Linked DNA regions of Homo sapiens. The protein of the gene in region 1 purifies or fractionates together with the protein of each later gene. This does not show direct contact. Each region holds a gene or a part of one and is shown in the gene's direction. Other genes may lie near its edges. The genes, in order: IFNAR1, AP2M1, PTPRS and BTRC.

The links.
Region 2: the proteins of IFNAR1 (region 1) and AP2M1 purify together in Homo sapiens (affinity purification with western blotting, with the first as the bait; 2 studies listed by BioGRID). This does not show direct contact.
Region 3: the proteins of IFNAR1 (region 1) and PTPRS purify together in Homo sapiens (co-immunoprecipitation; 2 studies listed by BioGRID and IntAct, with this or other methods). This does not show direct contact.
Region 4: the proteins of IFNAR1 (region 1) and BTRC purify together in Homo sapiens (affinity purification with western blotting; 5 studies listed by BioGRID and IntAct, with this or other methods). This does not show direct contact.

Annotation. Positions count from the first base shown.
Region 1 is NC_000021.9:33,327,374-33,335,488, forward strand, and holds part of IFNAR1 (interferon alpha/beta receptor 1 isoform 2 precursor), read left to right. Parts: intron 1-7,239; exon of another isoform or gene 7,240-7,728; intron 7,729-8,115. UniProt on the Homo sapiens protein: Together with IFNAR2, forms the heterodimeric receptor for type I interferons (including interferons alpha, beta, epsilon, omega and kappa).
Region 2 is NC_000003.12:184,177,809-184,185,660, forward strand, and holds the end of AP2M1 (AP-2 complex subunit mu), read left to right. Parts: intron 1-409; coding exon of another isoform or gene 410-415; intron 416-1,048; coding exon 1,049-1,314; intron 1,315-2,360; coding exon 2,361-2,443; intron 2,444-2,836; coding exon 2,837-2,842; intron 2,843-3,040; coding exon 3,041-3,176; intron 3,177-3,276; coding exon 3,277-3,418; intron 3,419-3,887; coding exon 3,888-4,007; intron 4,008-4,103; coding exon 4,104-4,239; intron 4,240-4,342; coding exon 4,343-4,440; intron 4,441-4,948; coding exon 4,949-5,060; intron 5,061-5,673; coding exon 5,674-5,808; 3' UTR 5,809-6,283; downstream 6,284-7,852.
Region 3 is NC_000019.10:5,204,551-5,212,470, reverse strand, and holds the end of PTPRS (receptor-type tyrosine-protein phosphatase S isoform 1 precursor), read left to right. Parts: coding exon 1-134; intron 135-220; coding exon 221-506; intron 507-702; coding exon 703-881; intron 882-1,665; coding exon 1,666-1,792; intron 1,793-1,876; coding exon 1,877-2,002; intron 2,003-4,079; coding exon 4,080-4,234; intron 4,235-4,413; coding exon 4,414-4,549; intron 4,550-5,628; coding exon 5,629-5,697; 3' UTR 5,698-6,963; downstream 6,964-7,920. UniProt on the Homo sapiens protein: Cell surface receptor that binds to glycosaminoglycans, including chondroitin sulfate proteoglycans and heparan sulfate proteoglycan.
Region 4 is NC_000010.11:101,531,907-101,540,021, forward strand, and holds part of BTRC (F-box/WD repeat-containing protein 1A), read left to right. Parts: intron 1-388; coding exon 389-526; intron 527-1,045; coding exon 1,046-1,164; intron 1,165-2,754; coding exon 2,755-3,004; intron 3,005-3,447; coding exon 3,448-3,566; intron 3,567-4,636; coding exon 4,637-4,747; intron 4,748-6,386; coding exon 6,387-6,465; intron 6,466-8,115. UniProt on the Homo sapiens protein: Substrate recognition component of a SCF (SKP1-CUL1-F-box protein) E3 ubiquitin-protein ligase complex which mediates the ubiquitination and subsequent proteasomal degradation of target proteins. Recognizes and binds to phosphorylated target proteins.

The DNA of each region.
Region 1 (8,115 bases):
AGTGTTTTAAAGGTATAAACTCATTAAGCTTTCAGAGCAGTGTAGATACTGTTATGCTTAGTTAACAGACAAGGAAACTGAGCAACGGAGAGATCAAGTAACTTGCCTGAGGCTGTATAGGCCAGTCCGTGGAGGAGTGGGAAGTCAAATCCTGAGTCTGGACTAATAGCCTTGGGGCTTAACCAGACTAGACTGTTTTCCCAAAGGCCAAACAATTTAAATTCCTGATTGTCCACTTGTATGTTAAGGGCCTAATTATCAGTATCTTTCAGTTAACTGTGAGCCCAAAAATATCTGAGACCGGTCTGAAATCAACTTAGAAAGTTTATTTTGCCAAGGTTAAGGATGCATTCATGACACAGCCTCAAGAGGTCCTGGCCACATGTGCCCAAGGTGGTCAAGGTCCAGCTTGCTTTTATACATTTTAGGGAGACATATCAATCAGTACATCTAAGATGTACATTTGATTGGTTCGATCTGGAAAGGCAGGACAACTCAAAGCAAGGCTTCCAGGTCATAGGTAGATTTAAAGATTTTCTGATTGGTAATTGGTTGAAATCAATGGAAAGGAATGTCTGGGATGTCCTAAGGGGTTGTGGAGACCAAAATTTTATCATGCAGATCAAGCTTGTCCAACCCACAGCCCACTGGCCGCGTGCAGCCCATGATGGCTTTGAATGCAGTCCAACACAAATTCGTAAACTTTCTTAAAACATGAGGGGTTTTTGTTTTGTTTGTTTTCTTTCTGTTTTTTTGTTTGTTTGTTTTTAGCTCATCAGATATTGTTAGTGTATTTTGTGTGTGGCCCAAGACAGTTGTTCTTCCAGTGTGGCCCACGGAAGCAAAAAGAGTGGACACCCTTGATGCAGATGAGGCCTGCAGATAGCAGGCTTCAGAGAGAATAGATTGTAACTGTTTCTTGTGAAACTTAACGTCTGTGTTGTTGTTAATGGTGGTTAGCTTTTTCTGAATTCCAGAAGAGAGGAGGGTATAATGAGGCATATCCAAACCTCACTTCGCATCATGGCCTGAAGTAGTTTTTCAGGTTAGCTTTGGAATGCCCTTGGTCAGGAGAAGGGGTCCATTCTGATGGTTGGGGGACTTAGAATTTTATTTTTGGTTTACGTAACTATCTACTTTTTCCCCAAAAAAAATCATGTTGAAAACTCAAGACCTTAAGTTTACAGCTCAAGCTGATCCTGAAAGTTATCTCAGTGAGATTGTAATGTTGCTCAGTCTTTCAGAAGTTGTATAAATGTACCTTTTAGCCTAGTAAATGCAATTCTAGGACTCTAGATTAAGAAAACTATCCAAAATATGGGAAGACATTTACTTACATATTTGTACAGATATCTATATTTGGATTTATGTCAGACTTAAAGATATAGTAAACCATTTTGGTCGTGAAAATGAATGTGAAAGGTTGAAAGCAACCAAAATTATAAATGCATTATATATATATTAGATTAAATGTCCATTTATACATTTACATGTGGGGTAATTAATTGTTAATATACTAATATAAAACATTTTAATATACTAGTAAATTAATATATTGTATGTTAATGTTACATAACAATTTATGAAAAAATTATTAAAAGGAGATTGCCAATAATAATAGAGCAAAATCTGTGAAAACTAAAATCCTGTTTAATAACTTTATTTCCAAGCCCCTGTCCATTTATCAGTCAGTTATTTGTTGGTCTTCCAAATGCCAACATGCCTGTAACTTCAGGGTCTCCTTCTTTTAGCAGTAAAGGATTTTTTTTCTCCCTGAGGAAATCACTAGCTGTACCCTATAACATTTTCTATTCTTGTCTCAAGGCCCAAAATTACTAGAATTATAATATTCTGCACAAGATATTGTAAATACTACAAATGCCATCAGATCTTTTGTTAAACTCTGTAAACCCAGTTGCTACCCTTTGGCTGCATAGAATCTATAAATTCTAACAAATGGATGAGAACCAAGTTAAGAATTCTAGAGTGGGATAAGGGGATGTGATGTATTCTATTCAGGGATGAAGTTTTAGAGACTCCAAGTATGAAACAGAAAATTGAGGATGGGGAGACCTGATGGGTACCACATTAAGTTTAAAAAAAAAAAAAGTGTTTTCTCAGCTGTCTCCCCTTTTGACCCCATACTATAAGATCTAACTGGAAAGAGCAAGAAGCTGTCTCAGTTAAGAAAGTTCTATACAAGAACCCCTGTGGTAGAACAAGTCTACAACAAGATAACATGATTGCCCCAAGGCAGAAGTAAAAGAAATATTGTAGGAACCATAAATGAATTTAAAAGCTGATCTTTTAAAAAATATATAACTTATCAAAGTGAGAGATCAGTCCTTTATGATATTTAAGGAGTTCCTGTGAATGCACCATTATGCTGGATACTCTGAAAAAATGCAAATCAAGTATGAAGCGATATAAATTCTGCCCTTAAGGAACTTGCAATCTAGTTGGAGATTTATGTTTAACACAAAGAAGCAGTTTTTACAAATACTTCTTTTGAGGATTCTGGGAAGATGGCAGAGTAGAAAGCACCAGGAATCTGTCTCCTCACCTAGACAAGAATTGTACTGGCAGAATCTGATGTAACTATTTTGGAACTCTGGAGTCTATTGCAGGCTTGCAACTTCCAGGGGACAGACTTAGATGGTAAATTGCAGTTAATTTTGGTCTATTTGAGCTCTTAGTACAGTAGCAGCTACCCATCTTCCACCTCTCAACCCTTAGCAGACAGCTGTGCACGTTATTAGAGCAATCTGCACACAACTTACAGGAATCAGGTGGGCAAAAAGAAACACACCATCCAGATATCTGGGATCTGTGCTCTTGATTGGTCATTGCTCCTTCTCGTCACAAAAGCGCAAAGAGATGGGCGGTTGTTGTTGTTACACCTTACTCATTGTTACAACCCCCTCCCCACTCACTCCCCTGCCCCATGGATTTAAAGGGCTAGAAATCTCCCTCTGCTTCATTTTTCTCTTTCACTTTTGGGAGCCGGATATTAAAGACTAGGACATTTAAAAACAACTGCATTTATGGGGAAAATTAGAAAGTCACTGTACATACCTAGGGAAAGGCTCAGGAGAGACCTTAAGTTTATAGCTCAAGCTGATCCTTGGCACAGGATTAACAACAATTACACAGCAATTAAACAAAGCAAACACACACACACACAATGTAGTCTGGGAGAGTGATGTTAGCAAGATGGCCAACTAGAAGCCCCTTCTGCTCATCCCCTCATAAGACAGCCAGAACAACAAATAAACAACTACATTTTAGCAAACTTAACTAAGAGTGCTAGAGTGCATCAAAGAAGTAACAGAAATCCTAGTGAGCAGAGAAAAGTGGGATGGCCACATGGAGAATGGGAGGAAATGCCAGGATTCCTAGGATCATCTGGGAACGAGGAGGAACTTCTTCCTATGGCAAGGAGATAAACAAGAAGATCCCAGCTACACCATGGGCACCAACAGATCTCACCACTGGGGTTCCTTAGAGTCCAGACAGCAACTAAGCCAAGCTGAGGAAGCTGCCTAGAGTCTGCACAGCTGTGTTCCCTCCAGAGAAGGAGCCAACACTGTGCTCCACCTGCTGTGGCCCACACAGCTACTGTGCCACTCCACCTTGGAACTGGAACTACTTCTGGAGTGTGTCTTGCTTCGGGGACTTGTAGCCATGGCTTCCTTTCATCTGAACCACGCCAGGCTGGTGGCTCAACATCCCTAAGCTAAACTTTAAGCAGCTGTTACACCCTTCCCTGTGGAGTCAAGCAGAGGTGGAACTACTCCACCTACTCCTACCCCACTGCCCTTGGGCTAGAGCTGAAGCAGTATCCTATTTCCTGGGAACACACTACCTTGGCCACCCAGAGCAGTCATGCACCCCTGTGCCTAAGCTGAAGTGGTATACGGCATTCCAGGGAAACAGGGCCTGAACCACCCAGAGCAGTCACACTCCCCGGGCCTCAGCTGAAGGAGCACATCACTCCCTGCAGAATCAGTGCCCTGGCCAAACCGAGCAGCTATGCATCCCAGGGCTGAGCTGATGTAGTATCCTATGTCTCAGGGAAACAGAGCAGTGGCTGAGCTGAGACACCCTGTTCTACAGGCCAAATAACTGTAGTACCCCGCTTCCCTGGAGCTGGACTAGTCCTCTAGAGCCTGAGCTGCTGAGACACTCTGAGGAGTGGAGTCATCACTGTGCTGTTCCCTACCCCCCATTCCCAGCCCAGACAACAGCTATGCTTCACCATTTTGTAGTACTTGCTGCTGCTGCTACACTTGGCCTCACAGTCTGGGGTACTGCTTATCCCTAGCTATTCCAAGATTTAGAGTCATGACTTCATGGTGCCTCATCCCTTGGGACCTGTGTTGCCACTGAGCCCTATTAGCTCATATTCCCAAATTAAAACCATACCCTGCTCCCCAGGCCCAAACCTCCAGAGAACCCCTTCTTTATAGTCAGGCCAGTGCTATGCCCTGACCCCCATAGGGGTAGAATCAAAGCTACAACCCATTCTCTGGGCCTAAGCTGCCAGGAAGCACCTCCAGGTCACAAATCCTGGCTCTGTGAGCAACTACGTCCAAGCCCTGCCACAGAGAGCAAACCCACCTCAGCAACCAAGTGTCTCAGTAGGTTTGTGAGATCCTGAGCCTAGGACCTTTGCCCAGTAGCCACTCTGAATACCTTCATCTGGAATCAAGAGCTGCTGCAGCTGCATATATATAGCCCCTGTCAGACCTGACACCAAGAGGTGTTGCCTTGGCTGAGTCTCCCCATTGTGGGGAAGACAAGAATAGGAGGATCCTAAAAGCCTTCAACACTGAGAACATTAACAACCTACACTACCACTGCCACAAACTTCTGCAGCCTAGGCCCCTGAGGCACCCATTTACTACTGACATTGAACACAGGTAAAGCAGCTGCTTTACCATACCACTGCATCTGTCAGGAAACAGTCACCACACCCTTCGAAACCAGCATACTGAAACCCAACTGCTAATAAAAGACTTTATCTTTGAAAGCCACTGTCTGTAAAGTTTGGAAGAGGTAATTATCCTATCAACACAAAGACACAAAAACATGAAAAAGCAAGGAAATATGACACCACCAAAGGAAAGTAAGAACTCTCTAATGGTGGCCCAATGAAAAGAAGATCAACAAATTGCTGGAAAAGGAATTCAAACTAATGATCTTAAGGAAACTCAACAAGATACAAGAAAATACAGATAGTTCAATGAATCAGGAAAACAATTCACAATACAAAAAATTCAACAAAAAAATTAAAACATGATGAAAAACAACCAAACAAATCCTACAGTTGAAGAATTCAATGAATTACATTTAAAAAATACAATAAAGAGCTTCAATAACAGACTTGGTAAAGCAGAAGAAAGAATCTCTGAACTTGAAGATATACCATTTGATATTACTTAATTGTAGAAAAAACAAGTGAAACCCTACAAGACTTATGGGACATCATTAAAGGAACAAACGTTCATACTATGTAAGTTACAGAAAGAGGAGAAAAGGTAAGAGGCATATACAAACTATTTAATGAAATAATAGCTGAAAACTTCCCAAGTCTGGAGAGAGATACAGACATCCAGATCCAGAAAGCTCAATGATTCCCAAATAGATTTAACCCAAAAAGGTTCTCTCCAAAGCACATTATTATCTGTTGTCAAAAGTCAAAGACAGAGAAAGAATTCTAAAAATAGCAAGAGAAAGGCATCAAGTCACATTTAAGAAAATCCCCATTCAGCTAACAGCAGATTTCTTCACAGAAACCTTACAGTGCAGAAGAGGATGGGATGATATACTCAAACAGCCAAGAATGCTATGCCCAGCAAAACTATCCTTCAGGAATGAGGGAGAAATACAGTTTTTCCCAGACAAGCAAAAACTGAGGGAATTCATCACTGCTAGACCAGCCTTATGAGAAATGCTCCAGGGAGTCCTACATCTGGAAGTGAAAAGAGAGCAGTCAGTATCTTGAAAACATGGAAAAGTATAAAACTCTCTGATAGAGCAGATACACAAAGGAGAAAGAGAAAAGAATTAAACCTTATCAAACCATCAAACCACAATGATAAATAATAAGAGAGGAAGAAAGGGGCAAAGGATATTATTAGAAAACTTTAACAAAATGACAAATGTAAGGGCTCAAATATCAATAATAATCTTAAATGTAAATGGATTAAATTCCATACTTAAAGAGACTGGCGGAATATTTTTTTTTTTCTTTTTTTTTTTTTTTGAGACGGAGTCTCGCTCTGTTGCCCAGGCTGGAGTGCAGTGGCGCGATCTCGGCTCACTGCAAGCTCCGCCTCCCGGGTTCACGCCATTCTCCTGCCTCAGCCTCCTGAGTAGCTGGGACTACAGGCGCCCGCTACCACGCCCGGCTAATTTTTTGTATTTTTAGTAGAGACGGGGTTTCACCGTGTTAGCCAGGATGGTCTCGATCTCCTGACCTCGTGATCCACCCGCCTCGGCCTCCCAAAGTGCGGAATATTTTTTAAATGACTCAATTATATGCTTTCTATAAGAAACCCACTTCACCTATAAAGACACATATAAACTGAAATTGAAGGGATGGAAAAAGTTATTCCAAGCAAATGGAAACCAAAAGCTGTCAGGAATTGCTATACTTATGTCAGATTAAACAGACATTAAGTCAAAAACTGTAAAAACAGACAAAGAAGGTTATTATATAATGATAAAGGGACCAATTCAGCAAGAGGATATAACAATTCTAAACATACATGTACCCAACACCAGAGCACCCAGATATATAAAGTAAATATTACTATACGTAAAGGGAAAGATAGACTCCAATATGATAGTAGTTGGGGACTTCAGCACCCCACTCTCAGCTTCGGACAGATCAGCAAACTCCAAGTACAGTGAACTCAAAGAGACCACACCAAGAAACAGTCAAACTTTTGAAAGCCAAAGACAGAGAAGTGACTTGTCATACACAAGGGATCTTTGATAACATGATCAGCAGATTTCTCACCTGATACTTTGGAGACCAGTGTATTCAAAGTGCTAAAAAAAACAAAACCAAAAAACTCAAAACCCTGTATATGGCAAAATTGCCCTTCAAAAGCATAAGGAAATTAAGATGTTCTTAGATAGACAAAAGCTAAGGGAGTTCATTACCGCTAGAACTGCCCTGCGAGAAATGCTTAAGGAAGTCCTGAAAGGTGAAATGAAAGGGCACTAGACAGAGGGGACAGTGCAGATTCAGGCAGGTGCAATGGCTTCTGGGGAAGACCCAGCCAGTGGGGCTATTGCCAGCATCCAGTCAGCTGCCACCTTCCCTGACCCCAGTGTCAAGTGATGCGCAGGGTGATCCAGGTGTGTGAGGGGCAGCTGGATGTCCAGACTGAGGGCACTGGTGCCATCAGTGGCTATCCTACCACTCAATTCATGACCCAGGTGGTGATCCAGGGTGATATCACCAGTTATGATGCAGTTAACACAGAGGGGAAAGCTGCTGAGATACACTATACTTTCCCACCCCTGCAGTGGGAGATGGGGCAGGGGGTACCACATCAGGGAGTACAGCTGCTGTTGTTACTACCCAGGGCTCAGAGGCACTGCTTGGGCAGGTGACTCTTCCTGGCACTGGTCAATTATTTGTGATGATGTCACCACAAGGAGTACTGCAGGGAGGAAGCCAGCACTTGATTGCCCCTAGGACTCAACCTTATTTATTTGGACGTAACACCATTGTAAGTCAAGAAGCATCTCTATCTATCTATGAACATACAATGTGAAATCAAATTGAGGCCATAAAACAGTTGAACCTCATCATAAGAGTGACTCATCGGTGTCACTTCTAAGACCAAGAAAAATTCTATTTTTATGCAGAGACCATTTGTTTTTTAATTAAAAGACAACTCTATTTCAAAGAGGAAAAAAAATCAACTCTTTTTTCAGCTCTCTCAGATGCAGAAATGTAATTATCAGCATCCCTGTGCTGGGAGCAATCATTAGTTTTTTTAGATTTTTAAAATATACTTCATTATGTTTCACTGTATTCATTCTTTAATCAGGGATGTGAGGGATAGAATAACATTTAGAATATCTGTACAGTTT
Region 2 (7,852 bases), on another chromosome or scaffold:
CTGGTTCCTGCTGCCTGTTTTTCTTCCTCAGAGAGCTTGAGATAAAGTCACAGAATGGGCCTGTGGCAGTGCTCTTCATTTGGCTCCCTGGCTGATGGGCTGGCTTGGCCCTTGCGGGCGTTTGTCCATTGGCTGGTGGTGTGGCATGAGCTAGAGCTGCAGCTGTGGCAAGGCCTGGCCTGTCTGAACCTGGCTGGCTACACCCCCCACCCCAGACCCCCTCCTGCCTTGGATGGACTGGGCAAGCCAAGGCCAGGTCACACGCCGCCTTGCCTGTCTTGTCTGCTTCTGCCTCACGGTGTGTGCCGCCCTCCCGGTGTGTTGTGTGTCTAACCCTCTCTCTCGTTGCTATCACTCTCCTCTTCTTGCTGGCGTCATTTCTCTCATCCCATCTCATTGGCTGCCGTAGCAATAGGTAAGCGGCCTCTCAAGCTGCTGCCCAGGTACAGGTGGGTGGGGGCCTGCCCCCATCGTTTTCCTGCATCCTTTTTCATTCCCTCAACTTGCTCTGGAGTTGGATCCTGGGCAAGAATGGGTAGCACAATTCCATGGCCCCTTGGTACTTCTCCCTCCTTTGTGACTTCTGAAGCCATGCTGGCTTTGTCTAACATCTGGAGGAGTCGGCCCTCCCCACTGGTGGGATCACTAGCGGGAGGACTGAAGAAGCAGTGTCTCTTTCTGTCCTGGACCTGGGAGCTTACAGGGAAGCTAGATAAAGCTGGGAAATTAGGGCCAGCCCTGGGAGTAAGGAATATCTGTCTCTAAACCTGATGAACCTCACTTTATTAAGGTTACATCAGCCTTAATAGTTGACTTCCCTATTTCTTGTGGCCTTTAGACACTAGCCCAGCTCAGGCACTCTTCCCATGCCTCCACAGGGAGTCATAAGAAGGGAACCACTCCAGTGGTTTAGGCATTGGCTTTCTTTGGAGTGTGTGTGTCAGACTTCTGCAGAAAGGAGGGTGGGGCTGTTAGCAGCTGTGGTTGATCCTTATGGGGTAAGGTTCACCTGGGTGCTGAGCAGGCCCTATGCACTCTTTTCCCTCAGGAGGAACGCAGTGGATGCCTTTCGGGTCAATGTTATCCATGCCCGGCAGCAGGTGCGCAGCCCCGTCACCAACATTGCTCGCACCAGCTTCTTCCACGTTAAGCGGTCCAACATTTGGCTGGCAGCAGTCACCAAGCAGAATGTCAACGCTGCCATGGTCTTCGAATTCCTCTATAAGATGTGTGACGTGATGGCTGCCTACTTTGGCAAGATCAGCGAGGAAAACATCAAGAACAATTTTGTGCTCATATATGAGCTGCTGGATGGTGAGGCTGGCGGGCTGGCACGGCAGCGGGCGTAGGGTGGGAAAAAACCAGGCTGGGCCTGGCCTGAAGGTGGGTGTAGGTCCGAGGCTCTGGTACACTCTGAACTTTCTTTCCTGAGTATTTGGTCTCTTGGGCTAGGATCTCTATGCCCCTCAGAAGGCCAGTTCACATCCAGACCTGAAGGCTGGTCTGAAGTAGAACACAGAAATAGGCCAGCAGGTGATCTTCCAAGGGGCTAGGAACCTGACTCAGGTTTGGTGGCTGAACCTCCTGTATTCATCCTCTTTCCTTTGTGGCTTGGACCTTAGTTCACTAACTGTCCACCCAGTTTTCCATCTCAGCAGCTGCTTCAGAGCCTGGGGGAGAGTGAGATATTACAAGCCTCTTGGGGTGCACTGTTATCTCTGTTCCTCTGTAGAGTGTGATCTAAGAGAAGGTGAATACTTCCACCTTCCCAATGTCTATTTTCTGGAGAAAACAGCTCAAAGCTTCTTGACTTGCCACCCACTGGCCATGTGACTCTTCTATTGATTTCTTTTCTTTTTTTTTTTTTTTTGAGACAGGGTCTTGCTCTTGTCACCTATGCTGAGTGCAGTGGTGCAATTGCAGCTTACTGAAGCCTCGACCTCCTAGGCTCAAGCAATCCTCCAGCCTTAGCCTCCTGAGTAGCTGGGACCATAGGCACATGCCACCATGCTTGGCTCATTTTTACTACTTTTTGTAGAGCTGGGTCTCGCTATGTTGCCCAGGCTGGTCTTGAACTCCTGGGCTCAAGTGATTCTCCCACCTTGGCCTCCCGAAGTGTTGGGATTACAGGCATGAGCCACTGCACCTGGCCTTGATTTCTCTATTTGAAAAAAATCAAACATTTGAATTGTTTTCCTGTAAAGCACAAATCACAGAATAAATGCTACAAAGCTAGAAGACTTTCTTGCGGATGATCCCACATGGGCTTTGGGAGCTGTGCCGGTCAGATGTGTAGGCCCAAGTAGGGGCTGGAATGAAGAAGCTCTGTCCAGGGGCTGATGGTTCCCTTCTTTTTGCAGAGATTCTAGACTTTGGCTACCCACAGAATTCCGAGACAGGCGCGCTGAAAACCTTCATCACGCAGCAGGGCATCAAGAGTCAGGTACTTGAATTGTGCAGACTATAGTCAGGGTGGAGTCCAATCTCCCTTCATCTCAGCTGGCCCCTGAGCCTTGTCTGAGCTGACTCATGAGCCCTCCCATGACAGGAAGTGCTGGCCTGAGCCTCCTGCCATGATTGCAGGCCGATTTTGCTCTGTGTGGTCCTCCCACTGCAGGAGCAGCCAATTCAGCATCTCTATTACCAGGAATACAGCTCAAGCAGTTTCCTTTTGCACTGAGGGGTGGGGGAGGAGGCCTGGTCTTGAGGCCTGGTATTCCTCAGGAGGAGCGAGCTTGGGCCCTCTCCTCTAGGATCCAAGCCTCATAGCTTTCTCCTCCTTTTCTGCCTCCCTTGCTGCTTCATGTGGGCACCTCGTTGGCCCTGCGGCCTCCAGCATCAGGTAAGCTCTTCCCTCAGCTTCCACCCTTGCAGCTTTGCTTTGTTTCTCCAGGCCCTGCCCTTTGGGGCTTATAGGGGAAAATGGATTACAGGTGGGGACTAGAAGGGATGGGGAATGAGGGTGGAGTGGGGATAGAGACAGGATGATTAAAGGGACAGAGGAGTGAGGCCATTGCTGTTTGTTTCTGCCCTCATGTAGACAAAAGAAGAGCAGTCACAGATCACCAGCCAGGTAACTGGGCAGATTGGCTGGCGGCGAGAGGGTATCAAGTATCGTCGGAATGAGCTCTTCCTGGATGTGCTGGAGAGTGTGAACCTGCTCATGTCCCCACAAGGTGAGGTCCCTCTCACGACAAAGTTGGAGGGGGCCCAGGGCAGGATCCTGGGCCTGCCTGCCTGACTCCGCTGCTCCCCATTTATCTGTTCCATCACCAGGGCAGGTGCTGAGTGCCCATGTGTCGGGCCGGGTGGTGATGAAGAGCTACCTGAGTGGCATGCCTGAATGCAAGTTTGGGATGAATGACAAGATTGTTATTGAAAAGCAGGGCAAAGGCACAGCTGATGAAACAAGCAAGAGGTGCCTGAGGCAGGAGAGCTGGTGGGAGAGGGTGTCCCTTGGAGGGCTCAGTGGGGTCTAGTGAACCACAAGTTTCTTCTGGATTTCATTCCCACTGTAATTGCAAACTCTGTTCCTGACGGTAAGCCTGGCTGTTCGCTCTTGACATTAGTGCTACGAGAGATGAGGGGATCGTCCTCAGAGAGCAAGCCCCTTTGTTTGGTCCCTAGGACCAAGGCCTTTTCTGTACATACTGACAGCCTCTGCCCAGTGTGCCTGAAACACCCAGGTCCCTAGCAGAAGGAGCCCCAAGAGATGAGCTTGCAAGGCTTCCCTCTCATCCCAAGCTCTGGGGCAGACCTCCGAGTCACAAAGCTGCATTCTAGCAGCTTTTCATAGTCTCTGGTGCCAGCCTGGGGTGGAGTGGTCTCCCAGCATGACAGCTGTCATTCTCCTGTACCAATGAGACCTCTTCTGCCCCTGCTTGCAGCGGGAAGCAATCAATTGCCATTGATGACTGCACCTTCCACCAGTGTGTGCGACTCAGCAAGTTTGACTCTGAACGCAGCATCAGCTTTATCCCGCCAGATGGAGAGTTTGAGCTTATGAGGTGCCATTGGGGTGTGAGGAGGCAGCTAGTGCTGCTGGCAGACTGGGGAGAGGAAGTGGGTCAGCTCTTTGGTAACCTTGCTTCCCATCCCTTAAGGTATCGCACAACCAAGGACATCATCCTTCCCTTCCGGGTGATCCCGCTAGTGCGAGAAGTGGGACGCACCAAACTGGAGGTCAAGGTGGTCATCAAGTCCAACTTTAAACCCTCACTGCTGGCTCAGAAGATCGAGGTGAGGACAGGGGGCTCAAGGAGGAGGAAGAACTTGTCCCTAGGAATAAAGGTAGCTGATGTCACAGCTTGACAGAGCTCCCTGACAGGTGTGTCACTTCTAGGTGAGGATCCCAACCCCACTGAACACAAGCGGGGTGCAGGTGATCTGCATGAAGGGGAAGGCCAAGTACAAGGCCAGCGAGAATGCCATCGTGTGGAAGTGAGTCTTTCCTTCATTAGGCCACAGCAGGGCTCAAGATCCCAGTATACCCTCTTGTTTTCAGCTTTGATCCTTCTGAATGAGGGGCAGGGGAGTGTGCCTGTTTGCTTTTCTAGGAGCCTCTGCTTGTACTGTCAGTCTTTATACCTCCATGTGAGTATGTACACGCCTGCATTTGGGTTCATGCACGTGCTTATTTTTTAAGATGCTTTGGCATTTCCCTTTGTAATGTATACATTACAAAGGGAATACATTGCCTTTGTAATGTATCTGTGAAGCAGACAAAGCAAACGATAGCATGTCCAAGTGTCTAGGCAGAAACTGCATCCTGTTGTTCTAAAGAAGTAGACCCAAGTTTCCATAGCAAGTGGTTAGCAGGGTCCTGACCACTTCTCCTTGTTCTGGCACCTCCTGCAAGCTCCTGGGCTCTCTCCTTGCTTGAAATGGGCAACTGCCCTTGAAACTCCTCCAAGCCCCAATGGGCTGCCCATTGTCCCTGTGTTCCCAGGATCAAGCGCATGGCAGGCATGAAGGAATCGCAGATCAGCGCAGAGATTGAGCTTCTGCCTACCAACGACAAGAAGAAATGGGCTCGACCCCCCATTTCCATGAACTTTGAGGTATGGCAGAGGAGGGGCCTAGAGTCATGCCAGGGTATGCTGGAAGACCTCTTAGAGATCATTCCGATAAACTGCTGCACCTTAGAGGTGAGGAAACTGAGGCCTAGAAAGAAGAACTGGCTTTAATTCATAGATCCATTCTTCCCCTTTCAAGCCTCTTAGTAGAAATTACTATTTGTGATGAGGCAAATCTTTTACTTCTCTCGGCTTGTCCTAACACAGTTCTTTCAAAAAACTTAGATTGTTTAAATGCCAGGTAAGACACAAAGTTTACTTACAGACAGGATAATGGGCTGACTTTGCTTTGCGCATGTTAGACATAATTTTCTCCACCTTATTTTTAAGTTCATAATATTGAGCAGGATAAGTATGTTCTAAAGCAGTTCTTTGGTTGCTGTCTCCTGCTGATTAAAGGAACTGATTCAAGGTGTCACAGGTAGGGCTTTCTTCTTTAGTCACCTCTTAGAAGGTCCCACGCCGCCCCAGCTTCTTTCAGGACCCCAGCCATACAAACACCTGTAGTAGCGATGAAGTAGGGCAGGGCAACGGGACTTCCCAGAGGAGAGCGGCTGTAAGAGGAAGGCCACATTTCTAACTAGCTCTCCTTGCCCAGGTGCCATTCGCGCCCTCTGGCCTCAAGGTGCGCTACTTGAAGGTGTTTGAACCGAAGCTGAACTACAGCGACCATGATGTCATCAAATGGGTGCGCTACATTGGCCGCAGTGGCATTTATGAAACTCGCTGCTAGCTGCCACTAGGCAGCTAGCCCACCTCCCCAGCCACCCTCCTCCACAGGTCCAGGTGCCGCTCCCTCCCCCACCACACATCAGTGTCTCCTCCCTCCTGCTTTGCTGCCTTCCCTTTGCACCAGCCCGAGTCTAGGTCTGGGCCAAGCACATTACAAGTGGGACCGGTGGAGCAGCCCCTGGGCTCCCTGGGCAGGGGAGTTCTGAGGCTCCTGCTCTCCCATCCACCTGTCTGTCCTGGCCTAATGCCAGGCTCTGAGTTCTGTGACCAAAGCCAGGTGGGTTCCCTTTCCTTCCCACCCCTGTGGCCACAGCTCTGGAGTGGGAGGGTTGGTTGCCCCTCACCTCAGAGCTCCCCCAAAGGCCAGTAATGGATCCCCGGCCTCAGTCCCTACTCTGCTTTGGGATAGTGTGAGCTTCATTTTGTACACGTGTGACTTCGTCCAGTTACAAACCCAATAAACTCTGTAGAGTGGAGTTGCTGGCTTAGTGTTGATGTGGGAGCTACATGGGGAGGGAACTGGTGTTGCTCTCCGTGCAGTTTTCTGTACTGAATACTCTAAAGGCTCTTTCCTTGTCTTGTCCCAGTTAGGCCCCTCCTGGGCCATCCAAGCCCTTATCCTTGTGGGTTCTGGGCCCAGGTTTCCTGGCTCCTCTTAGAAAGCCTCAAGGGCATGCAGCCGCAGCGGGCCCCAGTACCCTGGGGATAGATTCTTTCCCTAGCTCCTTTTTATTCCCCCTGGTCCTCGGACTCCTAGGCTCAAGAGATCTTACCTGCCCCAGCCTCTGGAGTAGCTGGGATCACAAGCACGCACCACCACAGCACCCAGCTCTTTCTCTAATTCTTAGGCAGATGTTTTCTAATTAGATTAAGCATAAATTAAGTGTGAAGTTTACATTTGGTCTTGTAGCCATCCTAAGAAATTGACCTTTTAATTCCATCATTTACCCAAGCTTCCCAAATCTTGCTGACTGGGTGGTAGGAGGAAAGATTTGCAAGGAGAATAACATAATGGACTGGGCGCGGTGGCTCACACTGTAATCCCAGCACTCTGGGAGGCCGAGACGGGTGGATCACCCGAGGTCCGGAATTCGAGACCAGCCTGACCAACATGGGGAAACCTCGTCTCTACTAAAATTACAAAATTAGCCGGGCGTGGTGGTGCATGCCGGTAATCCCAGCTATTCGGGGGCTGAGGCAGGAGAATCGCTCGAACCCAGGAGGTGGAGGCTGCGGTGAGCCAAGATCACGCCACTGTACTCCAGCCTGGGCAACAAGAGCGAAACTCCTTCTCAAATTAAAAAAAAAAAAAAAAAGAATATAATGAATCTCCATGTCTCATCACCCAGCTTCAACTATGATCAATGCGTGGCCAGTTCCTTAATATCACATCCAGTTTGTGTTCACTTAACCAGGTGTCTTATCAAATTTTTCCAGATAAGGTCCATTGTGGTTGGTTAATGCTCCTCAAATTTTAAAAATTGATGTTTCCCTTCAGGTCTTGCAATTTTGTGGAAGAAACCAGAGTTCTGTAGTTTACCACATCAGAATTTGCCTGTTGTCCCCATGAAGTCACTTAACATATTCCTCTTTACCTGTATTTCCTGTAAAATGGTTCAATATCGGGATTGATGCCTCATGATGGCAATGTTTAATCCAAAGGGATGAATGGGTAATAATGTAATTTTCGGTGCCACTTTTAGAGACCAATTGGAGGAATATTCACGTTAAATATAAAGCAGTAGCATCATTTTGGAGGAAATTCCTAACTTCCCGAGGGAATCGGTGAAAGGAAATAGCCTTTTATTGGCATTTATTGAGTGCAGAGAAGTCTGCTCAGGGTGTAGGTAGGGAATAATTTATACAGGCCACGTTGTCCTGGTTTTCTTGCCCTTTGGCGGTGGATTTGGTCGTGCCCTGGGGTGGTGGAAGAACTGAATGGGCTTAATTCACAAAGGTCGGCTGAATTACACAGTGAAAAGGCGGTCGCGGCGGGGAGGCGGGTGGCGCTGGCCACCAGGCTGAGAAGCCCGTAGGGTCTGGGG
Region 3 (7,920 bases), on another chromosome or scaffold:
GAGGTCCGCCAGTTCCAGTTTACGGCGTGGCCGGACCATGGCGTGCCCGAATACCCAACGCCCTTCCTGGCTTTCCTGCGGAGAGTCAAGACCTGCAACCCGCCAGATGCCGGCCCCATCGTGGTTCACTGCAGGTACGTCCACCCCACTCTGCCCCATCCGCTTCCCCCCGGTCCCCGCAGCCCAGCAGCCCCTGAACGCCACGTGGCTGTCCCTGCAGTGCCGGTGTGGGCCGCACAGGCTGCTTTATCGTCATCGACGCCATGCTTGAGCGGATCAAGCCAGAGAAGACAGTCGATGTCTATGGCCACGTGACGCTCATGAGGTCCCAGCGCAACTACATGGTGCAGACGGAGGACCAGTACAGCTTCATCCACGAGGCCCTGCTGGAGGCCGTGGGCTGTGGCAACACAGAAGTGCCCGCACGCAGCCTCTATGCCTACATCCAGAAGCTGGCCCAGGTGGAGCCTGGCGAACACGTCACTGGCATGGAACTCGAGTTCAAGGTGCCAGCGGGGTGGAGGCTGCTGTGGGCGGGGTGGGGAGGAGGCCCAAAGAGCCGAAAATCAGGCCCGCCTCGAGCAATGGGGACTAGAAGGTGGTGGCAGGGTGCCCCTACCTACCTATCCACCATTGGTGCTCCAGCTGAAAGCATAGCCTTCCTCATCCTGATGGTGGCCTCTGGCTTCCTCCTCCCCACAGCGGCTGGCTAACTCCAAGGCCCACACGTCACGCTTCATCAGTGCCAATCTGCCTTGTAACAAGTTCAAGAACCGCCTGGTGAACATCATGCCCTATGAGAGCACACGGGTCTGTCTGCAACCCATCCGGGGTGTGGAGGGCTCTGACTACATCAACGCCAGCTTCATTGATGGCTACAGGTAGGTGCCATGCCTTTCCCACCTCAGGGCCCCAGAAGGAGCCCATCTCTACTCTCAAGAGGCCTCCAGTCTTGTGGGAGACAGAGCTGGGGAGATACTGGTAGCCCTGAGCTGTTTAAATACACATCTTTAGATGTATATTTAACTGATGGCTGCTGTCCGTGAATCTTTGGGTGTGTGTTTAACTGATGGCTGCTGTCCATAATGTGATTCCATCTGTTCTATCAGTGGTTCTCAATTGGGGTAATTCTGACACCCTGAGGATATTTCTTATTTTCATGAGTACTACTGGTACTGCCTGGGTGGGGACCAGGCATGCTGCTCAGCATCCTACAGTACACAGAACAGCTTGTCTCAGAGAACAATCCAGCGCCAAATGTCAATAGCACTGAGATTGAGAAATCCTGGCAAAGGAGGGGAGGGTGTTCCTGGCAGAGGGTGCCACATGTGCAAAGGCCCGGGGCTGAGAGCTTGGCCCACGCAAGCAACTGAAAGTAGGGCAGTGGCCCTTGAAGGAGATGGAGGGAAGAAATCAGGAGAGGTTAGTGGATAGTCCCGCAGCTTTGTCAAGGGATTTGAATTTGTCATGAGACTGGTGGTTTCCCCACATGCAAAATGGGATCACCAGGAGGGGAAGTGGTGCACCCAGCAGCCATTCCTGGCAGGCAGTGGGGTGGTAGGTGTAGCTGTCACTGGCTTGGTCCTGACCCTCCCGGGCAGCATCAGGTGAGTACCACGCCGGGTCTCCCTGCCGGCCCTGGGCTCATACCCCCAACGCCTGCAGGCAGCAGAAGGCCTACATCGCGACACAGGGGCCGCTGGCGGAGACCACGGAAGACTTCTGGCGCATGCTGTGGGAGAACAATTCGACGATCGTGGTGATGCTGACCAAGCTGCGGGAGATGGGCCGGGTGAGCTAGGGGCCACAGCAGGGAAGGGCGAGGGCCAGACTGTGGCTCAGACAGCGCTGACCACGGCCGCCATCTCCTCCACAGGAGAAGTGTCACCAGTACTGGCCGGCCGAGCGCTCTGCCCGCTACCAGTACTTTGTGGTAGATCCGATGGCAGAATACAACATGCCTCAGTATATCCTGCGAGAGTTCAAGGTCACAGATGCCCGGGTGAGTGAAGAGACAGACTGGCGGGAGGGGCTGGAGCCTTAGTGATCTGGAAAGGGCTGCCCTGGTTGGTGATGGATACAAAGGCCAAGGGTTAGGCATAAGCATTGGGAATCAGGAGAAGTGTCAGCTGACCAGTTGGCCACTTGCTTCTACTGCCACATAGGTGGAAGAGAGGGTCTTATCTCTGTGCTGACCCTGCAGTGTCTCCACTCACTAGGGAACATGGCCCCAGGGGATGATATTCAAGGAAGTGAATGGGGCTTTCCTCTGGAAGCAGCCACCTGTGGAGGATGATGTTAAAGGGCTGAAAGGGACTTGAGGGATTGAGGGTGAGGGGTGGTAGACGGTGGACAAGGAGAGTCAGATGGTGGGGACTGGCACCGTTGGGTGAGGAGAGATGAGTATGGATGGTGTTGGCTCAATGAAGGACTGCAGTGTCAGGTGGAGGGAGAAAGGCCAGGTATTAGGTGGCAACAGATGAAGACTCATAGTGGAAGGTGGCCCTGTTGGGTGACAAAGGATCAAAGTTAGTGGTGGAAGATCGACGATGGTAGAGAACGCAGTGAGGGGATGATAGAGGATGGGGAATGTTGGCCAAGATGATGCCAAAGGATGGTGAAGGCTGCTGAATGAACAGCAATCACCGGGCATTGTGCTGTGAGCAGTGCAAGATGGTGCCCTTGGAGGGGTGGAATCTGGAATTGGAGAGAAGAACATTCGCATAACAGGATGGAGAATGTCAGTGGAATGTGGTAGTTTGGGTCAGTGAAGGGTGATGCTTTATCAGTGATGGATGGAGGAAGACAGAATTGGAGAAGGGCAAATGTTTGGCCAGCAGGGGGTGGAGAAAATCAATGGGAAATACTAGGACTAAGAAAGGACAGTAAACAATAGTCAATGGTATAAACCAATGGGTGGTACAAGATTGAGGAAGATGGGGTTGGGAAAGGAGATTTTAGAAAATGTAAAACATCAGGGAAAGATGGTACATTGGATGGCAAATGGTGGCAGAGGATAACAATTTTGGATGGCACCATTTTGATGGTGGAGGATGGGATTAGAACAAGGCAGATGATGGGGAATGGAGAATGTCAGTGGAAGATGGTACCCTTGGATGGTGGAGAGTGATGAATTGTTAGTGATGGATGGTGGAAAATGGCACCATTGAGTTGTGAAGGATGGAAGATGGCAGAGAATGATGTGGTTGGATGGCACCACTGGGTGGTAGGAAAGGAGACTGCAAAGAGGAATGGTTGAGTAGTGGGGAATGAAGACAGTCAGTGGAAGATGCCATCACTGAATGGTTAAGGATGAGTTACCAAGAGGGGATGGTGGTGGATGATGGAAGATGATGGTGTTGGGTGGAACTCGGGACGGCAGAAGGTAGTGAGTTACCAGCAGTGGGTGGTAGCAGTGGCACTGTTATTGGATGGTGGAAGATGATGGTGTTGGATGGTGGACGATGAAAGATGATGGCACCATTGGGTTGTAGAAGATGAGTCATCATTGATGAGCTATGGACAGTGATGGAGTTGAGTTGTGCTGTAGGGCCCCGAAATGGCACAGAGTGGAAGATGACAGAGGATCATGGTGAATAGGAGCTGGGAAGGGCAGAGCTGGTTGCACTATGGGATGGCAAAGGATGGAGGATGGAGGTGCTGGATGTCATACAGGAAATGTGGGGAGAGGAACAGCTGGGTGGCAAGAAGTGGTGAGGATGAGGTTGGAGCATCTCTTATGGAAAGCAGTACCATTGGATTGTGAAGGACGGTAAGTTGTCAGGGTAAATGAATGGCAGAGAGTGTACAAAATGGGGGTGAGGGCCGGGCCTGGTGGCTCATGCCTGTAATCCCAGCTAATCGGGAGGCTGAGGCAGGAGAATTACTTGAATCACTGGAGGTGGAGGTTGCAGTGAGCCGAGATCACGCCATTGCACTCCAACCTGGGCGACAAGAGTGAAACTCCATCTCAAAAACAAACAAACAAACAAAAAATGGGGGTGAAGATAGGGAGGATGGAGAAAAACCCCCATGGCCGCTGCTGACCTGATAACAAGATTGGGCTCTCTGCACTCTAGGATGGCCAGTCCCGGACTGTCCGGCAGTTCCAGTTCACAGACTGGCCGGAACAGGGTGTGCCAAAGTCGGGGGAGGGCTTCATCGACTTCATTGGCCAAGTGCATAAGACTAAGGAGCAGTTTGGCCAGGACGGCCCCATCTCTGTCCACTGCAGGTGAGCTCCCTCGAGTGTCCCAGCTTTTGGCCCTGCTGGGGAAACTGAGGCCTGGTGGGGACAGCCCCAAGCTTAGGCTGTCCCATCTGGGCTGTTAGAGTCCTCGGGGAATCGGGTGGTCAGATCAGGGCTCCCCAGCACCTGCCCCTGAATGGCTGTGCTCACTTTACTGCCACCAGTGCCGGCGTGGGCAGGACGGGCGTCTTCATCACGCTTAGCATCGTGCTGGAGCGGATGCGGTATGAAGGCGTGGTGGACATCTTTCAGACGGTGAAGATGCTACGAACCCAGCGGCCGGCCATGGTGCAGACAGAGGTAAAGATGGGACAGGGAGGGGAGGCAGCCTGGCCTCACGCCCCGACTGCCCCTAAGCTCCAGTTTCCTCCTCTGTGAGATGGGTACAGCCACCTGGGACTCTCTGGGTCACTGTGGGTAGACGGTCCACAGACCCCTCCCGCACTGGAAGGGGACCAGTAACCCTTTTAACACAACAGTCAGCTGAAGGTCAAAGGCGAGAAGTGGCCCTTGGAGTGGACAGAGATGGGCTCATTGCAGTCCCCAAGTCACAGCAAGTCTGTGGCTCAGCCTGGACCCTGCCAAGAACCACTGACCCCCAAGTCCAACCAATGTACAGATGGGGAAACTGAGGCCCAGACTCCTAGCTTCAAGGGGAATGTTCCAGTGGAGGGGGTTCTGAACAGCAGCCATGTCTTAAAAGATGAGTAGAGGGGACCCGGCGTGGCAGCTCACACCTGTAATCCCAGCACTTTGGGAGGCTGAGGTGGGAGGATCGCTTGAGCCCATCCTGGGCAACACAGAAAGACCCCATCTCTACAAAAAAAATAGAAATGAGGCTGGGTGTGGTGGCTTATGCCTGTAATCCCAGCACTTTGGGAGGCCAAGGCAGGCAGATCACCCGAGGTCAGGAGTTTGAGACCAGCCTGGCCAACATGGCGAAACCCTGTCTCTACTAAAAATACAAAAATCAGCTGGGCATGGTGGTACACGCCTGTCATCCCAGCTACTTGGGAGGCTCAGGCAGGAGAATCACTTGAACCCAGGAGACAGAGGTTGCAGGGAGCCAAGATGGCGCCACTGCACTCCAGCCTGGGCAACACAGCGAGACTCCGTCTCAAAATAAATAAAAAAGAAAAGATGAATAGGGCCTCCAGGCAGACGGGAGGAGAGGGCGTTCCGGGTGAAGAGCCTGGCTGTGTTAGGCAGAGAGGTGTGGCATAGCTCACTTCATTGTGGGAGGGCCGTGGGGGCCAAAGAGACCTTCTGCAAGAGACACGCACAAGGCTGAGGAGCTTGGCCTGCTCCTGAGGGCGATAGGGAGCCCTGGGAGGCGTTAGAGCAGCGGAGGTACTAACAGGTCACCTCTGCTCCCCCAGGATGAGTACCAGTTCTGTTACCAGGCGGCACTGGAGTACCTCGGAAGCTTTGACCACTATGCAACCTAAAGCCATGGTTCCCCCCAGGCCCGACACCACTGGCCCCGGATGCCTCTGCCCCTCCCGGGCGGACCTCCTGAGGCCTGGACCCCCAGTGGGCAGGGCAGGAGGTGGCAGCGGCAGCAGCTGTGTTTCTGCACCATTTCCGAGGACGACGCAGCCCCTCGAGCCCCCCCACCGGCCCCGGCCGCCCCAGCGACCTCCCTGGCACCGGCCGCCGCCTTCAAATACTTGGCACATTCCTCCTTTCCTTCCAATTCCAAAACCAGATTCCGGGGTGGGGGGTGGGGGGATGGTGAGCAAATAGGAGTGCTCCCCAGAACCAGAGGAGGGTGGGGCACAGACCATAGACGGACCCCTCGTCCTCCCCCAGCGGTGGTAGGGGGACCCGGGGGGCTCCTCCCCGCTCTGCAGCCTGGGGACACTGGGCTGGGACCAGAATCCAGCTTTCTTTTAAAACTCTCAGTGTAACTGTATCCCGTGACATTTCATTTTTTTTAAATAGTGTATTTTTTTTTCCATTTTTTTTTTTAAGAGAAACAAACAAAAGACTCGCCAGTCAATGACTTTCAAAGAGAACTAACTTTGGCTTATTCATATTCTGTTCAAAGACAGTCTATTTTTTCACTGTAGAAAGCGTCCTTGTGTGATAGTTACGTTCGCAAACGCGCACGCCAGGCCCATGGCTGTACCTTGGCTTTTTTTTTTTTTTTTTTTTTTTTAATTTTTCCTACCATCAGAAAGTGTGCTTTGCTCACAGAAGAATGGGATGTCCTTTTTTCTTTCTTGGCTTTTTTTTTCCCCCTTTTTGTTTCATTTTTATAAATTAAATTTTCAGACATATCAAATACAGTTCTGAGGGTAAGGTCATGGGGGAGCTCGGACCCAGTGGCGTTGGGTGCGGTTGAGGGGGACGCTGCTGTAAGAGGAGAGAGATGACAGTGGTCCTCCTCTGAGAGCCTGAGCTGTCTCCCCGTCTCCCGCCCCCAAGGAGACAGAGAGGATCCTACTTCTTCGGGGACAGTGGCTGTATGGCTGTGCTGCCCCACATCAGGGACCCTTTCCCCCTGGGACTGTGGGGCAGTTTGGGAGCAAAACCAGAAGGACAGGCCCCCCTCTACCCGCCTACCCTGAGCAAGCGAGTTGTTCCTCTTTGTACAAGGGCAGGTCTGCGGTTACTTTCAACACTGTTTATTCCAGCGGAAGCAGCCGGGTGGTTTTCCCACCCCCGTGTATGTAGATATATCGACTTTGTATTAAAGGAAGATCGTCTGACCCCGGCCCATTGTGGAGTCTTTGTTGCGCCCCTGCCTGTCCAGTTTCATCCCTGGGGTGGAGGTCGGTGGGGTCCTGGAGAGCTGATCTCGTTTCCTTGTGTGAACAGTCAGAGGAGGAGTTGGCCCAGAGAGGTGGTGGTGCTTGTCCAAGACCACACACCGCTGAGGCGGGTGGATCACAAGGTCAGGAGTTTGAGACCAGCCTGGCCAACATGGTGAAACCCAGCCTGGCCAACATGGTGAAACTCAACTCTACTAAAAATACAAAAATTAGCCAGGCGCAGTGGCGGGCGCCTGTAATCCCAGTTACTCAGGAGGCTGAGGCAGGAGAATCGCTTGAACCCAGGAGTTAGAGGTTGCAGTGAGCTGAGATCATGCCATTGCACTCCAACCTGGGTGACAGAGTAAGACTGTCTCAAAAAAAAAAAAAAAAAAAAAACTCAAAACACCGATGAAGTGGCCAGGCCAAGATTTGAACCCAAGCCCTGGTCCTGTAGGGGCTGCCTCGTGTTCTCATTCTAATAAGTGACCATGACTGAGAATTCACCATGGGCCAGACACTCTGAGATAGAAGTTACCAGCCCCTTGGCCAGGCGCGGTGGCTCACGCCTGTAATCCCAACACGTTGGGAGGCCGAGGCAGATGGATCACCTGAGATCGGGAGTTCGAGACCAGCCTAGCCGACATGGCAAAACCCTGTCTCTGCTAAAAACACAAAAATTAGCCAAGCATGGTGGCACCTGCCTGTAATCTCAGCTACTCAGGAGGCTGGAGCAGGAGAATCACTTGAACCCAGGAGGCGGAGGTTGCAGTGAGCTGAGATCATGCCATTGCACTCCAGCCTGGGCGACAGAATGAGACTCCCATCTCCAAAAAAAAAAAAAAAAAAAAAAAAATCCCCATTTACATATTAGGAAACTGAGGCTCAGGGAGGGGCACACAATGAGTTTGAGGT
Region 4 (8,115 bases), on another chromosome or scaffold:
AAATATCTTCTGAATTGAACCTCCTTAGAAGTTCATCAGTAGCAATCAGTAGCAATGGCCATCACATATGTAAGAGCACTGAGTGTATAACCTCACGTAGTTCGTAGCTTTTCTTCTCTTGATGAGTAGTCTCTTTCCACCAGATTTATTATTTAATTGAACAAATTATAGGCAGGGAAGTTCTAGGAAACAACCTTTAATTACCTTGCAAAAGGAAGAATATTTTATAAATATAGATAGTAGCCTTTTAAAGACATTTTTTAGTTTTCCCTAAGTTGTGTATATCCCATAGAGTAAAGCATTGAGCCATTGATTGTCATTAAAGCCTAAAAAGAGTTTGATTCTAGGTGTTTCCTAACACTGCCTCTTTCCCATTCCTTCTTCTCAGACAATAGAATCTAATTGGAGATGTGGAAGACATAGTTTACAGAGAATTCACTGCCGAAGTGAAACAAGCAAAGGAGTTTACTGTTTACAGTATGATGATCAGAAAATAGTAAGCGGCCTTCGAGACAACACAATCAAGGTGAGGTCTATTCAGTTGTAGAAAGGTAGCAGAGGGAGCAAGAGTGACCACATTCATAGCGCAGTCTAAAGCATAAACTCTAAGCATTATTTCTAGAAAGTAAGTGAAGATTTTAGATTGTTTCCAGTCCCAAAGCCAAAATCATTTCCTTAAAGGACAGACATCAGCTTCCCCACTATACAAACGGGTAGTCCTAGGGTTAAATTCTCTTCTTGAAATGCACTGAATGGGCTGTTACTCTTTTGGCCATCACATAATTATAGACTACCCTGTTCCTTAATGAAAAGGATAAAAGTTTGCATTAGTACTGAAGCTATATGTGTGTGTGTGTGTGTGTGTGTGTGTGTGTGTGTGTGTGCGCGTGTGCGCGCGCGCGCGCTTAGCTATACCTATAGAAAATGCATTCCACACTACTCTGGGCTTTGATTATTTTGGGGGATCAGACACGTAATAGGACCAACAAGTCTCCACAGCACCCCATCATCACATTGATCAAAAGGATCTTATTTGCCATCCTAGATCTGGGATAAAAACACATTGGAATGCAAGCGAATTCTCACAGGCCATACAGGTTCAGTCCTCTGTCTCCAGTATGATGAGAGAGTGATCATAACAGGATCATCGGATTCCACGGTCAGGTAGAAAATTTCAAATGCTTTTTTGAACTCTGAAATATCAGCTCTGCTCTGTTCTTTGTCATAGATAGTAATTTTGTATATATCGGCACAGTTCTGAAACTAAAGAAGAATAAACCACCAGGTCCCCATCATTTCTGTCAGTCTAGAACTAGAAAACTTGATTTAGAAATGCTTGAGGTAAGTTTACATTTTCGCACATTGAAGAAACTACACATTCTATTTTAATTTGGAGGATCATCTATTACAGAAACTTTTCTTATCCTTATGGTAAACTTTGCATTCCTTACAAAAACCACCTCACGGGGGAATGATATGAATGCAATGAAGCCTTCCTTTCAGGTAGTGGTAACTGTAGTGCAGGTCTGTATTATCTCCTTTGAAACATGTACAGGTGAGCTGTGCTCTCTTTGCCAGCCCCTCCCCTGCCATCCCTGCAGTTTTTAATTGCAAGCTTCACTCAGGTAGGGGCCCTCAATTTCCAGAGGCATTAGTGATTTGATGACACAGCCATTATACTGCTGGAGTCCAGGATAGCTTGAGTTCTGGGTACCAGCAGCACTGCTGGGAACCTCTGTTAGGAATTTTGCCGTAAGCTAAAGGATTTAGCAAACATAATGCATCAAAAGTAACTTTAAAAAAAAAATAGACCTAGGAAAAAAGCGGTTAAGTGCATTGTTAGATACTCTGAAGTTAAATGTTTACCATTCCAAGTTATCCTCTGTGAATAGAAAAGACGGTTCCTGTTTTTTGTCTTTTGACTTAAAGGCATAGCAAGGCATAGCAAACTTGGCCCTTGTAGTTACTGACATTTAACATTTATTGGTGCTTGTGGAGTGAGTGCCCCACAGAATCTAAAACACTGCAGGTGCTAACATCATTTATAAGATAAAGAAAAAATGATATTCTATAAAAGGGGGCTAAACTGGAAAAAAGGAAATAACATGTTATAAAACCTTAAGTAAATACACAAAAATAGAATAATCAAAATATATAATCACACAAAATTCTCAAGCTATCCAAGGGCCCCACACTCTGCTGTGAAGCCCATATTTACAATGGGGGGTCTATTTTAAACCCCTACCCACTTCAGAACACAGAAATGGGGGCTTAGAATTAGAGTCATGGTTATCTTGGCCTTTGACCTTTATGATAAAACCTGAGATCCAGGGTAATCAAACTCAAATTCACATTACTAAGTATGTGACAGAAGCATCTTGGCCTATTTCATTTCTGGCTCCTGAGGGCTATCATTGGAATGGGCACTAATGCTATTGTTATTAATCAGATTCCTCATTTAAAATGTATCTTACTAATGGTATCAAATTGAATGTGAGAAGTTTTACAGTCTTCAAGTCTGGGCCAAATTATTAGGTGACAGTGGCTGCCACTTCATCCTTGCCCTCCACAACTTGCCCATATTTCAAGCAGTATGTCTTAAGGACACACTGGCAGCATCCCATCCCCTTCCTTCTCCCACTCTCCCAGTCTGGCCCTCTCTCTAAATATAAGGGGTGGAAGGGCGCATGATGGTCAAATATAGGTAACAGATTGTAGCTTGAGTACCATCTAAATCTCATCTATCACTTCCAGAGTGTGGGATGTAAATACAGGTGAAATGCTAAACACGTTGATTCACCATTGTGAAGCAGTTCTGCACTTGCGTTTCAATAATGGCATGATGGTGACCTGCTCCAAAGATCGTTCCATTGCTGTATGGGATATGGCCTCCCCAACTGACATTACCCTCCGGAGGGTGCTGGTCGGACACCGAGCTGCTGTCAATGTTGTAGACTTTGATGACAAGTACATTGTTTCTGCATCTGGGGATAGAACTATAAAGGTAATAAGGCATTTTTCAGTAAGTTTCCAACTTAGAATGGGGGAATTCATATGAAAATTTGATCAAGGGCAATTTCATATTTAAACGTTGCTACAGAAAAATGTAATATTTAATTCAGAGACTAGTCTACAAGTGAAAAGGTGTAATAAGTGAGACGTTGTGTGACAATTTATCCTAGATATTTTATTCCTATAAATAGTGGTGAGTGTGAGAAGAGACTAACCCTAGAAGAGTAAATCAATCTGAGGAATTCTCATGTGGTAACAGCCAACTGCAAATTAGCCTCTGTTACCATGAATTTAAATTGTCCTTTGTTTTATTTGTTTGAGAAGACTTCCCTCTAATGGTTCAGTCCTGTTTTCTGCTTCTCTAAGACTCCATTTGCCATAGATTTTACCAATAAAAGCACCAAATCAACTGCTCAATGCCATTTTCTTTTTCAGGTATGGAACACAAGTACTTGTGAATTTGTAAGGACCTTAAATGGACACAAACGAGGCATTGCCTGTTTGCAGTACAGGGACAGGCTGGTAGTGAGTGGCTCATCTGACAACACTATCAGGTGAGCAGCAAGTGCCTTGTATCATAAGGGATCAATATTATGCTCCCATTCATTATTAATGCACAGATCATACAAGTCTTCAATTTTGTTATGTTTATAATCAACTGTTTTTCCTTTCTGTAGCTTCTTACAGGTCAGAAGTTTGCCCCAGGCAGAGAAGCAGCACAGCAAAGCCTTTTGTTGCCCTTCTTTTTAAATTTCTCCTGTCTACCGTTGAAAAGTGCTAATAAACAGCTAACAGCCTTTTCTTTGCCATTGTTTTTAAGAAATGAAAAGAAAGATTTGTTTCCTTACTAGAAATTATGTAATTTTTGTCTTAGCATTACATAATTGGCCAGAGAGTTACCTGTCTTTGAAATTATGAAGATTTCACAGTTGGAAGTCCTTTTTGGGGTTTTCCCTTCACAAAGATGAATGACATAGATATGATTATAATTTGGAAGATTTATCCATCCTCTCCCTTCAGTGAAGTATTAAAAGGATGAAAAGGCCATTAAAAAAGAGCTACTGTTTGTTATATCTAAGGAAATTATTCCTAGAAATCACTTGAATTGCTCTGAAAACGTACAGTTTTTATAATTAGTACACAAAAGTTCTTGAGAACTGACTTTGCATTTCTATTCTCTGAGAAGAGCTGTCCTGGACAGTGGTGAAAGAAGTGTCTGCCGTGGCAGAGGGGGAGGTGCTTTGTGAGAACAGGACATCACTGATAATCTGTATCTCTTTCAGTTTGGTGACTTCAGGAAACTGCTTTCTTAGCTTGGTCATTTCCTTCTCAGGCAACTGCGTGCATTGAATTCGTTTTTATGCCTGGAAGAACCTGTTTACAGAATTATGTAAAGCCCTGTGCTTTGAAAATACATTTTACATTTGAACTTAAACCTACATATTTCTGTGTGAGTTATATAGCAGAAAGGAAATAAATTACATTGAAAGCAGTACATATCTGTGTGGGTGGTGATTGATTTTATTTTATGAATTTTTAGAAGGCATATGAGGTGTATTGTTATAACATTCCAGGCTTAGAAAAGAATACGTGAAAATTCACCTGACTTAATTTTCTCTTCCAGATTATGGGACATAGAATGTGGTGCATGTTTACGAGTGTTAGAAGGCCATGAGGAATTGGTGCGTTGTATTCGATTTGATAACAAGAGGATAGTCAGTGGGGCCTATGATGGGTGAGTGTGCTAACAGAGTGTAAAAAAGAGAAAATCTACGTCTTAATCCTTCCTTATGTTTATGGTGTTAAACATAACCATTCCTTGTTTCTAAAAGCTTATAGATTTTACACAAAATATCTGATACCATATTTCTTTAATCCGTGTATTTACCTCTCCTTGGTTTAGTGTCCTGAAATATTCTTCCCATTCATTTTATTATACTTGTTTGCACATGGTTGTCATTCATATTTTGGTTATTTGGTTATGTATTTGACTGTTTTGCCCTGTAAAGCAAAGAACAAGAAAAACCCAGTGTTAACAGGCTACCCATGTAAAAGGGTAACCTGTTAACAAAACAGAAACACTAGAGGGCAGTATTTGGGGACTTAGTGTGGTAAGATCTTGAATTTTGATTTCTTGGGTTTTTTATCTCTTTGAGTAATTTTTAAGAGTACAGTTCTCTTGTCATCACTTGTCATCCTAGCATTTCATTTATGAGTTTAGTCATCTTTATTTTCTTCTAATTTCTAGTGGTTATGGAATCCATTAATTTTGTGAATGGACCCCATGTCCACCAATCCTAAACACAGAGTAAATTCAAACAAAAGTAGTCTGGGCACAATGGCTCATGCATTTAATCCCAGCACTTTGGGAGACCGAGACAGGTGGATCATTTGAGGTCAGTAGTTCGAGACCAGCCTGGCCAACATGGCAAAACCCAGTCTCTACTAAAAGTACAAAAATTAGCCAGGTGTGGTTGCGGGCGCCTGTAATCCCAGCTACTTAGGAGGCTGAGGCAGGAGAATTGCTTGAACCAGGGAGGCAGAGGTTGCAGTGAGCCAAGATTGCGCCACCACACTCCAGCCTGGGCAACAGAGCGAGACTCCGTCTCAAAAAAAGAAAAAAAAATAGTTATTCACTTAGGAAGAACTCTTATCATTTCTTTTTGTCAATCTGCCTGATTTTGGCAGCTTTTTAAATATCAGAAACTAACAACATTATTTTAGTTCATGAGTTAACTACACTGATACATTCATTAGCCAATGCAAGCAGCAGGAAGTGTAGACTGCTCACTTCTTCTGCTTTGGGACAGCCATCACTGTTACAACCTTGGGAAATTGTTCAGAGTGTGGTGACATGTTCCAGCTTGGTCAAGACAATATTTTCTTATTGTCCTGGCTTTGATCTGTACCCACCTGTCTTGGAATTTGTCTGCTATGTACCTTGAGGAAACATGGCCTATTAAAAGATTTTTGGAAGAGCTACACTTATCTTATTTAAATCAAAAGATGAGGGCTTGCTTATATAAACTCCATTGCTCTTACATGGACCCCAGTCCCTCAGTACATGTGACCTGGGCCACTCTTAGAAGTGCCCAGGAAGAGGATGCTTCACAGTTGTAGATTTCTAGGTCTGTGTAATATCATTAAAAGGTCTAATGTACAAGATCTCCTCTTGATCCCAAAGTATGGTATAACTTTACTGTTAACTGTCTTCAGTTTGGTTAAAGCTAGCCTGTTTCTCATTTGTAGGTTAATCACGTACATTTGAACTATACTCACCATCCATATTTATTGCCATGAATTTCTGCTATTCTTCCCTGCCTTCTCTTACATTTGCTTTTAACTAACATTTTTGTCCCCTTTTTGATCTTTAGAAAAATTAAAGTGTGGGATCTTGTGGCTGCTTTGGACCCCCGTGCTCCTGCAGGGACACTCTGTCTACGGACCCTTGTGGTAAGAGCCTTGCTGTTTAGAGAGCATTGGAGAGCAGGTGGGGGAAGAAATTAAACGTTGATGTGCTGTGGAATATGGATTTGAATTTAATAGTTACAACCTCACAAAACCTACAACTAAGTGGTAAGGCAACCAGTACATGACAATAAAATATGTTTATATAATTCCTTTCATCCAAAAATGCTTTAGAGACTATATATGGAGAGAAATGTGGCAGCTGTTTAACAGCTGCACAGCAACTCTACACAACAGTTTAGTGCAGGGAGTGAATAAGAATTCTGTATCCACCAGAAACAGCAGGGGGTACTAAGGGAGAGAGAATATAATTATTCAAATTGGAACCTGTCCAAAATCTGAGGACCTGTACACCTGTGCCTTCAAAAAGTGCCCTGGGGGCCGGGTGCGGTGGCTCATGCCTATTATCCCAGCACTTTGGGAGGTCAAGGCAGATGGATCACCTGAGATCAGGAGTTCAAGACCAGCTTGACCAACACGGTGAAACCCCATCTCTGCTAAAAATAAAAAAAAAATTAGCCAAGCATGGTGGCAGGTGCCTGTAATCCTAGCTACTCAGGAGGCTGAGGCAGGAGAATCACTTGAACCTGAGAGGCGGAGGTTGCAGTGAACCAAGATCATGCTTGCACTCCAGCCTGGGCAACAAGAGCGAAACTCTGTCTTAAAAAAAAAAAAAAACTGCCCTGGGAATCTGCATGAATCCCCCTGGTCAACCCCTTAGTTCTGCAGCCTATTCATGAGGTAGTGCCTCCAGCAACTTGAGCCCATCTTTTTTGTTCCCCATATACCCCCTTTTGACATTTGGGGAAAAAAGTGATTCAAAAGGAGGAATGCACTAAATTATTTATCATGTTGTTAGCCAAGGGCCCAGATTGATAAATGCTGCTTCCATTAGAAAATTAGTTGGAGCAACAGGGTGGACAGACACCACTCGGAGAAAAGATGAGAGCAAGCATTTGAAGCCCAGTGTTCTAAATCCTGACTGTCATCATTTAGGCATTCTTGGCTCTGGAGAAGAGAAAGAGGTTACATTTCTTGTCTTCCTTGTTGGATTTATGTGTGTATGTATAAGACAGGGTCTTCCTCTGTCACCCAGGCTATAGTGAAGTGGCACTACATGTTGCTGATGTATATCAATATTTCATTTCTTTTGAAAATTTGCTGAGTAGTATTCTATTGTATGGTTATACCCATTCACTGATTGTTTCTCGTTTTTGGCTATTAACAAAGTTTCTATAAACATTTATGTAGAAGTCTTGGGATGAATGTATGCTTTTTGCTTTTATTTCTCTGAGGTAAATACCTAGGAGCAGATGACTAGGTCATATGGTAAGTGTATGTTTAAAATTTTTAGAAACTGCCAAACTGTTTTTCAAAGTGGTTTACCCTTTTACATTATAGTATATAGCAGTGTATGAGAGTTCCAGTTACTCCACATTCTTGCCAGTACTGAGCACAGTCTGTAATTTAGTCATTCTCATTGTGGTTTAATTCGTGTATCTCTAATGATTAATAATGTCAAGCATCTATTCTTTGCCATCTGTATATCTCCTTTGGTGAAGTGTGTTCAAATCTTTTCCCATTTTTTAATTGAGTGGTTATTGAGTTTTGAGATTCTTTTATATATTATAAGTT